Linked DNA regions of Homo sapiens: region 1 is linked to region 2. Evidence: fine-mapped QTL for protein levels in blood plasma. A gene starts in region 2. The other region holds a variant in brackets. All regions are shown on one strand. Distances are from middle to middle.

Evidence for each region. PIP is the posterior inclusion probability: the model's chance that the variant is causal. Protein levels are from antibody-based Olink assays in UK Biobank. Linkage for the fine-mapping came from a reference panel and not from the study's own genotypes, which makes the PIPs less certain.
Region 1: its variant is fine-mapped to the plasma level of the SCGB3A1 protein (UK Biobank, PIP above 0.99).

What each region holds. Positions count from the first base shown.
Region 1 is chr5:180,619,547-180,622,522 of GRCh38, reverse strand. It overlaps FLT4 (fms related receptor tyrosine kinase 4), which reads left to right. Exons shown (of 30, transcript NM_182925.5): 13 at 619-981; 14 at 1,271-1,417; 15 at 1,516-1,647; 16 at 1,808-1,914; 17 at 2,215-2,350; 18 at 2,754-2,858. Among named protein-coding and RNA genes, the nearest start is that of FLT4, 29 kb to the left of the region's middle. RefSeq lists an enhancer at 1,493-2,692. The variant A/G (reference allele first, on the strand shown) is at 2,111.
Region 2 is chr5:180,589,393-180,597,843 of GRCh38, reverse strand. It overlaps SCGB3A1 (secretoglobin family 3A member 1), which reads left to right and starts at 6,345. Exons shown (of 3, transcript NM_052863.3): 1 at 6,345-6,433; 2 at 7,006-7,244; 3 at 7,590-7,739. The coding sequence starts at 6,382. The coding sequence ends at 7,613. LOC124901154 (a long non-coding RNA gene) reads right to left here and starts at 4,674. Exons shown (of 2, transcript XR_007059088.1): 1 at 4,635-4,674; 2 at 3,576-3,951. RefSeq lists a silencer at 960-1,131 and enhancers at 6,144-6,813, 6,814-7,483, 7,484-8,153.

The DNA.
Region 1 (2,976 bases), 27 kb before region 2:
CTGGGGCTCCTCCCTCAAGGATGCCCTTGGCTCACTGCAGCTCCTCCTAGCTATACCCACTCCCACCCTCCCCTTCCCAAGCCCTGAGACCTTGTGACTCGTGTGAATTTTGCTCTGGGGAGAAGCTCTGTGGTTTACTCAGATTTTCAAATGTGGTAGTGACCTCAGGAGAGCGGAGCCCAGGAGCAGACGTCACTGGGTCCCAGAATGTAGATCAGGGCACCAGCAGAGAGATGTAGATCAGGGCACCAGCAGAGAGATGGAGCCCAAAAGAACACCCGGGGGCTGGGGGGCCACAGGAGCCTGACCAGAAGTGACCAGAGAGACAAGAGGAAGTGGGCGCACGGCACTGGGAAAAGCCAGGGAACACGTTATTTCAGGCTGAGCATGGGGTGGGGCATGGCAAGCTTCAAGAGAGAATGAGGACTCAAGTCCCACTGAGGGTGACAAGGAACTCCTGATGACCTGGGCTTTTGGTGGGGCGGGGGGCAAGCAGTCCAGCTGGGGCCCCTCCAGGAGAGAGGGAGGGAGGGAGGCAGGAGGAGACCCCGGGGCGGCAGGTGGATGGGGGAGCAAACTCCCAGGGCAGTGCCACAGGGCTTCTTCCTCCCTCCACAGCCATCCCCGACGGCTTCACCATCGAATCCAAGCCATCCGAGGAGCTACTAGAGGGCCAGCCGGTGCTCCTGAGCTGCCAAGCCGACAGCTACAAGTACGAGCATCTGCGCTGGTACCGCCTCAACCTGTCCACGCTGCACGATGCGCACGGGAACCCGCTTCTGCTCGACTGCAAGAACGTGCATCTGTTCGCCACCCCTCTGGCCGCCAGCCTGGAGGAGGTGGCACCTGGGGCGCGCCACGCCACGCTCAGCCTGAGTATCCCCCGCGTCGCGCCCGAGCACGAGGGCCACTATGTGTGCGAAGTGCAAGACCGGCGCAGCCATGACAAGCACTGCCACAAGAAGTACCTGTCGGTGCAGGGTGAGGCTGGCCGCGGGGAGGGCGGGGACGCGCTCTCTTCTAGCAGTAGCTGCCTCTGCCTTTGCCCCGGCGTGGCTCGCCCCTGGGAGGTCTATTCACAGCCCTGGCCTGCAGGAGCTACCCCTCCTGACTATCCGCCGCCCCCTGCGGAGGCGCGCCGCGCTCCTGCCCGGCGCACAACCCCTAAGTCCAGCTTCCAGGGATCCTTTTCTACCTCTGCTCCCAGCCCAAAGAGGGTCCTCCTGCTAAGTGCAGCTCCACTTAGCTCCCTCTCGACCCCTGCCCCCAGCCCTGGAAGCCCCTCGGCTCACGCAGAACTTGACCGACCTCCTGGTGAACGTGAGCGACTCGCTGGAGATGCAGTGCTTGGTGGCCGGAGCGCACGCGCCCAGCATCGTGTGGTACAAAGACGAGAGGCTGCTGGAGGAAAAGTCTGGTAGGGAGGGTGGCCCTGGCGAAGGGCAGGTCCGGAGGCCCGCGAGGCCGACGATCCCAAACCCAGGTGGACCCGCACCTCCACCCCACCCCCTGCAGGAGTCGACTTGGCGGACTCCAACCAGAAGCTGAGCATCCAGCGCGTGCGCGAGGAGGATGCGGGACGCTATCTGTGCAGCGTGTGCAACGCCAAGGGCTGCGTCAACTCCTCCGCCAGCGTGGCCGTGGAAGGTCTGGCCTCAGGCTGCACCCCTCAACTCCCTTCCCGTCCCCAGTTAACGCTTTCTTGTGGCCACCTTGGGCAAGTCGTGGCCACCAGAAGGGGTGCTGCCTGCAGGTGCACGCTCTTACACACACACACACACACGCCGGCCCCTTTCTGCCCACGCAGGCTCCGAGGATAAGGGCAGCATGGAGATCGTGATCCTTGTCGGTACCGGCGTCATCGCTGTCTTCTTCTGGGTCCTCCTCCTCCTCATCTTCTGTAACATGAGGAGGGTGAGTGTCCCTCCCCGCTCCTGATGGAGTCTCTCTCAGGCCTTCCCCACCCTGGCCGCCCCTAAGATAAAGAATAAGGTGCCCGCCCTAGTTCACCTGGCAGCCTTGTTTCCTGGGAAGCCTCCCTGCCCTTCACGCTGGGCTCCAACCCCGCAGAGGTTGTCTGTCTTTTTTTCTGTCCCCTCCTTGACTGAGA[A/G]CCCCGCAGGAAGTGCCATCTGTCCTGGGCAAAGTTCTGCCCAAGCCACAGTGGTATGGCCAAATCAGTGAGCTGCCCCACTCCTCCCTGTCCCCTCCCCGCAGCCGGCCCACGCAGACATCAAGACGGGCTACCTGTCCATCATCATGGACCCCGGGGAGGTGCCTCTGGAGGAGCAATGCGAATACCTGTCCTACGATGCCAGCCAGTGGGAATTCCCCCGAGAGCGGCTGCACCTGGGTGAGGCCAGCACCAGCCTGCCCAACCCACACCTCCTGCCCGACCCACCTGCTGCAGGCCGGAGTGCCTGAATCCCTCCATTTTCAAAACTTGCACCAGGAAGTTCCGCCTGGCCTGACCTGTCCCTGTGGGCGTGGGTACCTAGAACCTCAGCCAGGGTCCCCAGTTCCCAGGCTCCCTGAGGTCACCTGCTGCCACCCTGAGCAGGGTGTATCTGTCACACCTACCCGGGAGGATGCGCGGCCTCCTGTCCACCTCTCCTTGTCTTCCCGCTGTGGCTCCCCACGCTCCTCCTGCTGCCAGGCCTGTCCTCCTGGACCTCTGCACGGGGCTCCCCCGCCGCCCACCTGTCTCCACGCTCACCCCGTACAGCTCACCTGCAACTGGCCCCCTGCCCCGACAGGGAGAGTGCTCGGCTACGGCGCCTTCGGGAAGGTGGTGGAAGCCTCCGCTTTCGGCATCCACAAGGGCAGCAGCTGTGACACCGTGGCCGTGAAAATGCTGAAAGGTGTGGGGTCAGCGGGCGGAAGGGGCAGCCTAGCTGGTGAGGAGCAGCAGCTCGGGGTGGGCCGGTGGGACGGCAACTCGGGAAGGGAGACTGAGGCTGGAAGCCAGTCTCATCCGAG
Region 2 (8,451 bases):
CTGCCCAGGGTCACCTCCTGAATCCCTGCCAGCACCCCTTCCTCAGCCTCCTTCCTCACTGAACAGACTGAAGCAGGGAAGTGGGACCTAATGAGACACGATGTTTCCTCTGCTGCTGCTGCTGTGGCCAGCACGGTCCTTGGAGCAGTGGGGTGAAGCCTCACGGGAGGGCCCTGGGGATAGCACCAGCGCTTGTGTGCCTGGGCCCAAATTGGTATCGGAGGTTTGGCACTGCTGGCTGCCAGCCTGTCACTCCAAGGAGGACAACTCTAAAAAATGGGAGCTGAGAGGCCGGGCGCGGTGGCTCACGCCTGTAATCCCAGCACTTTGGGAGGCCGAGGCAGGCAGATCACGAGGTCAGGAGATCGAGACCATCCTGGCTAACACGATGAAACCCTGGCTGTACTGAAAATACAAAAATTAGGCGGGCATGGTGTCGGGCGCCTGTAATCCCAGCTACTCAGAAGGCTGAGGCAGGAGAATCGCTTGAACTTGGGGTCAGAGGTTGCAGTGAGCCGAGATTGCACCACTGCACTCCACCTTGGGCAACAGAGCAAGACTCCATCTCAAAAAAAAAAAAAGGAGCTGAGAGATGGCAGGGAAGAATGAGGTATGAGGTCCTGGTGACATCCTTTGAGCCTGGATCAACCTTTCCCTGAAGGCGGAGCCACTCCTGGAATTTCAGTCTTTGCTTAAAGCCACGTGGGTCAGCTTTTCTGTCACTTTCACCAATGCCCTGAACCCACAAGGCAGGAACCACATCGACAGCACCTGCTCCCCTCCGCACAGCAGGGCCCTGTGGGTGGGAGTGCCGACAGGGAAGGGGCAAAAGGAAGTGGCTGAGAGCCAGATCAATATTGACCCAGGGACGGTGCCACAGAGGGCGCTCGGATATGCTCACGACACTGCCCAGTGCCCGAGGGCCCACGGGGCTGAGCTATGAGGAAAGAGGACGCGGGCTGAGGAGGGGGTGCTGAGCGCCCCAGGGCCCACGGGGCCGAGCCATGAGGAGGGAGGACGGGGGCTGAGGAGGGGGTGCTGAGCGCCCCAGGGCCCACGGGGCCGAGCCAAACCACTTCCTACTGGCGCAGGAGAAAGCCCAGAGTGCCTGCTGGGACTGGCCGAGGTGCCTGTCCTTGTGGGGCCCACTCAGGGCGGTGTGGAGGGTCGCTGCTGCTGGCCGCTGTGGTGGCCCTGGCCAGGAGCCCCCACAAGTCCCTTGAAAAAGGGTCCCAGGACCATCGGGAAACTCAGGGTGCCGGCTGACACCACCAGGGCTGCCCACCGGTCCCCACCTTCGAGTAGGAAAGTTTGCTCAGAAGGAGTGAGGAAGGGGGCCTCGGGGCCGGGGTCCAGCGCCTGCGGCCTTTGGCTCTAGACATAAAAAGAAGAGCAGCTTCTATTGGAACAGCACCACAGACCCCTCCCAAAGCCCCAGATCATTCTAGCATGGAGGGCTAACCTAACCAGGGCCCAGCCACCAGGACACCACCTGACAGCCAGCTGCTATCCCAGGAGAGCAGAGGTGGGCAGAGAGGGGCCCCAGAAAACTCCGGCAATGAACAGTCACCAAGATGCCTGCTCTGGCGGGGAGCTGCACTCACCTGCCCAGGTGACCACATCAGAGAGGCATGGGTATCCGGAGTTCAACCCAGTTTGCTTAATAATTTATGTACTCAAGGCATTAGGAAGAGAGGGCACCAGAGAAAGAGGGATATCAAAGAGAGGGGGCATCACAGAGAGCAGGGGCCTCAGAGAGAGAGGACATCAGAGAGAGAATGGGGACATGGTGGGGGCATCAGAGTGGGCATCTGCCACCTGAACAGCCCTCCACAGGTGTCTGCGGAAGCACCGCCAAAGCGTGGGCCGGGCGGAGGCACCGTGAGCCTCTAGGCTCCCCAGCAGGAGCACCCAGGGGCTGAGTACCCTGCTCCGAGGCCCTGAGGTCTTTCAATAGGCCCCAAATTCAATATCTGGCCCCTTCCCCAGAGCCGCAAAGTGCTTGTTTACCTTCCAGCTCTTCCTGCATTCCGTGGGAGTGGGCAAGGTGTGCGTGTTTATTTTGGCCCAAAAGATGCCCTGCAAACACTGCCCAGAACAAGCTGACCGTGTCGTCTGCAGACAGCGCCAAGCACTTTCTCAGTGTCTCGGCAGACCTGAGCCAGCAAGGGCCGCAAGCAGGAGTGGCAGGGAAGGCCCAGGCTGACGAGAGGGCGCTGCCCACCCGCCCCTGTCCCATGCCGGGCGGACTCTGACACCCACCCTGGAAGCCTCACCTGGCCTGGCCTTCAAGGGGCAGGGCAGCACTTGGAGGGCATGGCAGGCCCCAGGTCCGTCCACACCCCAGCTCCTGGAACCTTGGAATGTTAGGCTCAGCAGGCACGGTCTCGGCAGCCCGACTGGGGGCGTCATTGTGAGATGAGGGGACTGTCCTGGGTTATCTAGGTGAGCCCTAAATGCAACAACACACACACTCATAAGATGGCGGCAGAATTTTCACACTCACACACACCCACACTCACACACACATTCACACACACTTGCACACAATTCAAACACATGCATATCCACACACTCCCTCCCACACACTCCCTCCCACACTCTCCCTCCCACACAGACTGACTCACGCTTATCCACACACACACTTGTACACACATTCACACTCAAACACACCCACAAGCTCACACCCACTCACTCTCCTTCACATGCACATTCTCATTCACTGTCCATCTTACACACTTGCATGCATATTCACTCTCACCCCTCCACACACACACCCCCACACATCCCCACACCCACACACACCCACACATGAACCCTCACACACACCCACATACACACCCACACATACACACCCTCACACACACCCCACACACACTCACACACCCACACATACCCTCACACACCCTCACACACACCCATACCCTCTCACTCCCACACACCCACACACGAACCCTCACACACCCACACACACCCCCACACACACCCACACACCCACACACACCCACACACCGACAAACCCTCACACACACACCCCACGCACCCTCACACACACACCCACACACACAGAAGAGGAGGAGGCCATGTGACCAGGAGGCAGAGACTGGAGTGATGCAGTCACCAGCCAAGGGGCCCTGGCAGCCCCCATAAGCAGGGAGAGGCCAGGAGTGGATAAGCTCCTGGGAAGGCCCAGCCTCTGGAGGAGGAGCGGCCCCCGACGCCTCGCCTTCACCCCCGTGACACTGCACTTCTGGGCTCCAGAACTGCGAGCGGAGTAAATGTGTTGTTTTCAGCCACCAGGTATGTGGTGACTTGTCACAGCAGCCTCAGGAAATGAATACAGAGGCAGCCGCTGACCCAGCTGTGCAGGTCTCGGCACAGGCCAGACCCTCGGCCTGCCTGATCCCCAACTACCGCAGAGGCTTCGCCAGCCGTGGCCCCCAGAGCCAGTGTGGGGTGAGGGGCTGGGCCAGCCTGAGGTGAGTCCTGGCTTGCCTTGACCATGGCAGCTCGGGAGAGGAGAGCACATCCTTTGGCCCTGTCAGTGGTGAAACGGAGACACCGTGACACACTTCTCCGGGGAGCCAGGGGATGTATTTTTGGAATCCGAAATCTTGGGGCACATGGGAATGAGGGCCTGTCACCACCCTGCAGGCTTGTGGGAAATGGGAACAGATCCACCCAAGGCACTATGAGCCGGAAGGTGGAGGGAGGTTATTTTGAAGACAAAGGATCCCTGGAGGCAGGTGCAAGGGGCCGCTGGAGTGGCCAGGACCCCAAGCGCTGCTGGGGACCCACAGATGACGGCCTCCCCCTCCTCCTGGCCTCGGCAGCATCGGTCTTTCCCGCGGTCAGTGTTCTCTGGTCCCCAGGCAGCATGGGGAAAGGTGGCCCCAAAGTCAGCTCCCAAGATGCGCCCACTGGGATTGCTTGGGCCAAGGCTGCCAGATCCTGCTCAGGAGAAGAACAAGCATCATGAGGTTGTGGACACACTGGGATCCTTGTGCATTGTTGCTGGGAAGGCAGCGTGGTGCCGCTGCTATGGGAGAGATGGCAGATCCTCACAAATGACACAGGCAAGTTCCACAGGCTCCAGCCATTCTACCTCTGAGCAGCCACCCAAAACAGCCAACAGCAGGGTCCCAAAGAGGCATTTGCACAGCCGTGTTCACGGCCGCATTACTCACAGCAGTGAAAACATGCAAGCGCCCACATGTCCACCCACGGGTGAAGTGAATGGGTGAAGAAAACGTGGCACAGCCATGCAATGGAGCAGTATCCTACCCTAAGAAGGAAGGAAACTCTGAAGGTCATGAATGAACCTGGAGGATATCATGCTAAGTGAAATACGCCAGACACAAAAGACAAACACTGCCCGATTCCACTCATATGAGGTGCCGGGAGTGGCCAGATTCAGAGACAGAAAGTGGAATGGTGGTGCCAAGGGCTTGGGGAGGGGAGTGGGGAGTTGTTTAATAGGCTCAGAGTTTCAGTTTTATAAGAGGAAAAGAGTTCTGGAAATGGATTGTGGTGATGTTTGCACAACATTAGAATATACTTAATGCTAATGGAGTGTGCCCTTAAGATGGTGAAGCTGGGCTGTGCGGGGTGGCTCACACGTGTCATCACAGCACCTTGGGAGTCTGAGGCGGGAGGATTGCTTCAGGCCAGGATTTTGAGACCAGCTTGGTCAATGTAGCGAGACCCCATCTCTAGAAAAAATAAAAATAAATCAAGCCAGGCGTGGTGGCTCACACCTGTAATCCCAGCACTTTGGGAGGCTGAGGCAAGAGTATCACTTGAGGCTAAGAGTTCAAGACCAGTCTGGGCAACACAGTGAGACTTTGTCTCTACAAAAAATAAACAAAATTAGCTGGACATAGTGGTGCACACCTATAGCCCCACCTGCTTGGGAGGCTGAGGTGGGAGAATTGCTTGAGCCTGGGAGGTGGAGGCTGCAGTGAACCAAGATCACCTCACTACACTCCAGCCTGGGCGACAGAGTGAGACTGTCTCAAAAAACAAACAAACAAAAAACAAAATCAAAATCCGCTGAGTGTGGTGGCTCACACCTCTAGTCCCAGCTACTTGGGAGTCTGAGGTGGGAGGATTGCTTGAGCTCAGGAGTTCGAGACCAGCCTGGGCAACACGGCAAGACAGTGTCTTTACCACCACCAAAAAAGTAATTAACTTCAAACTGTTTTTAAAAAAGAAAACGTATTTCCCATTAAAATTACTTCCATGATGACCAACAAAACACAACCAAACTCCAGATTTATAATGCAAAAATCCCCCAAACAAAATAGTCAAGGAAAAGTGTAAGTGAACAGAAACAGTGTGAATGCGTGTGCCTGGCCACAACAGTTGGCAAAGGCACAAGTGTCTGCAGGTGCGGAGGAGGCCGCAGTAGCTCGGGGTGGCTGAGGGCTAAGACGTGCTGTCAGCCATAGGGAAGGAATTCCAGGACACTGCCTGAAGAGTCAGGTCCTCCCACCCGGGAGCCTGTTTCCCACGCGTGCCAGCTACACTTTACAAAAGAAAAGAGAGACTTTGCACCAACCTAGCTGAGAGCAGCCACGCAGCAAAACGTGAGTCACTCAGTGCTCAATGCCTGGGGTCAAAAAATAGAGGAAAGAAGAAGGACTAAAAGCAAATTAGTTTATGTATCATTTGCAAAAGTTTTCAAAATGTGCTTTGCTCTCCATCTGTCATACTTCTGCAGGTGACAGACGAGTGAGGACATTTAGAGAAACTCAGGAACAAACCAGGCCCATCCACTGGCGTCGAGGCTAGTTTCGAAGACAGAAAAACGCCCCACTTCTGTTTGCACTGTGGCTGCCTGTGGCCCGGCCGGGGAGGCGGCCGGGAGTGAGGCCTGATCGTCCCTGGCGCCTCCACCTCCCCAGGCGCAGAAGGCGCCCACGAGGACCCCCAGTGCCCGACGTTGCCACGGTCTGGGATCAGAGGCAGGGACCAGGGAGCCAGGAACTGCGCCGCCCCCGCCCCTGCCCTGGCGCGAGGGAAGCTCCCCTCACCCGGGCCCAGCCCTGCAGGGGGGCGCGTGGGGTCAGACCGCAAAGCGAAGGTGCGGGCCGGGGTGGGCCTCGCGGAGACAAAGGCCGGGCCTGCCTGCTCTCAGAGGGCCCCAGCGCCTGCCAAGAGGAAGTCCTCGAGGCCCGGGCAGGGAAGGGGGCACGGGCTTCCCAGGGCCCGCCGGCCGCAGCAGGAAGTTGGCCAGGGCACGGCCGTGAGCGGAGCGGGCAGGGCTTTCTCAGGAGCGCGGGCGAGGCCGGCGCTGGAGGGGCGAGGACCGGGTATAAGAAGCCTCGTGGCCTTGCCCGGGCAGCCGCAGGTTCCCCGCGCGCCCCGAGCCCCCGCGCCATGAAGCTCGCCGCCCTCCTGGGGCTCTGCGTGGCCCTGTCCTGCAGCTCCGGTGAGCGCCCCGGGCTCCTGGCGCGCACGGTGGGGCCTGAGGCCTCGGCGCCCGCTGCGCCCCCGCCGCTGCCTGCGCCGATCGTGGATCCCAGGTCCTTCCAGCCTCGCCCGGCGCCCAGAGGGCTCCGCCACCCCGGGGCCCCGCGCCTGCAGCCCGCGGCCTCCCCCTCTCAGGGCTGTCTCCAGCCTCGTGCCGGGATGGAGGCCGCCCCTGGCCTGGGGACACCCGTCTGCCCCCCGTCTGGAGACCGGCTCCTCATCCTGCAAGGCGCAGCGCGAGTGTCCCCTCCCTTGGGGGCCTGTCCCGGACCCTGCACAGAGTTCACCGGTCCTTCCGCCACCCTCAGGCCACTCCGGTGACCCTGCAGCGTCTCCTGGCGGGGCCGCCTCCCCAGACCCGCCTGTGTCCCGGGGGCTCGCACCTGGCAGGCCTCGGCGCAGGAGGGAGGGGCGGTCGGGGAGCCGGGCAGGGCGCGACGGTTCCTGGGCGCCTCCCGCGGGGGCGCGTCCTGGACCTGCCTTCTGGGGACCCCGGCGCGCAGGCGGTGACCCCTCCCTGTTCGCTTGCAGCTGCTGCTTTCTTAGTGGGCTCGGCCAAGCCTGTGGCCCAGCCTGTCGCTGCGCTGGAGTCGGCGGCGGAGGCCGGGGCCGGGACCCTGGCCAACCCCCTCGGCACCCTCAACCCGCTGAAGCTCCTGCTGAGCAGCCTGGGCATCCCCGTGAACCACCTCATAGAGGGCTCCCAGAAGTGTGTGGCTGAGCTGGGTCCCCAGGCCGTGGGGGCCGTGAAGGCCCTGAAGGCCCTGCTGGTAAAGTGGGCACCCCGGGTGCCCTTCCTGCGCGGGCATCCCTTCCCGGCCAGCCTCAAAACTGCACCAGAGGTGTCCCGGCCCTACGTCAGGGCTGTTTCCCGTCCTGCCCCTCCAAGCCCTGTCCCTGGGAGAAGCCCGGGTCTCCGGGTGGGAACTGGGTGGGGCGCATCCGAGCTGCAGGGGCGGGGAAGGCGGAGATGGCCCCGCGCGGGTGCGCGTCCCCCGGAGACGCCAGCGGAACCGCCCCGCTCCCGCTCCCCACAGAGCCGGCCGCTGCCGCGCCCCCGCCTGAGTTCTTGGTGGCAGGGCTGGGGGCACTCAAGCTCGGCTTCTGCTTTCCAGGGGGCCCTGACAGTGTTTGGCTGAGCCGAGACTGGAGCATCTACACCTGAGGACAAGACGCTGCCCACCCGCGAGGGCTGAAAACCCCGCCGCGGGGAGGACCGTCCATCCCCTTCCCCCGGCCCCTCTCAATAAACGTGGTTAAGAGCAGCTCGAGCCTGGTATTTTCTCATCCAAATGCTGATCCCTGTGGGGGACCGAGAGTGCCAAGTCCCAGATTTTGTGAGGGGTGCTGCGTGAGAGAGGGAGAGAGAGGCCGCGAGAGTCTGCAGGTGGCATAGAGCCAGCAGTGCAAGGTGACAGAGATGGGGCCAGTATCAGAGGTAAACCGGATTTGGAAACAAAACTGGCAGGTCTTTCTTCCTGTTGTGCTCTGTAACTGTTTATGAAGCATAAAAATTATCTACTCCTTGAAGACTGGCGAGAATGCAAACGCACCAAAGCCATTTGTTGCTAAAATTTGAAAGTTTTTATTTTTTCCCTCTATACTTGTAGATTTCTTCCTCGGAATGGGGGAGGAATGAGGGCTTCAGGAAATCCGCTGTTGGGCTTGTTTTCCCTGCAGTTTCTGCTGGTTTTGTCCAAATAACCTAGTGACTTTGATTCCTTCTACTCTAGCGGAGAGACCACCTTTTGTCAACTGATCTAGTGTTGGTGGGAAGGTGCCCAGGGAACCCAGACATCGGTGTCCCTTTCAGGGGAAGCCTCCCAGTTGACTTCCTTGCTGGGATGAATAACTCTGCCTCAGGTGGCTTGAGCAGGTCTTCCCCCCATCATGAATATCCACACGAGATTTTAAAAATTTTTTGATTGGGCACGGTGGCGCACACCTGTAACCCTAGCACTTTGAGAAGCCAAGGCA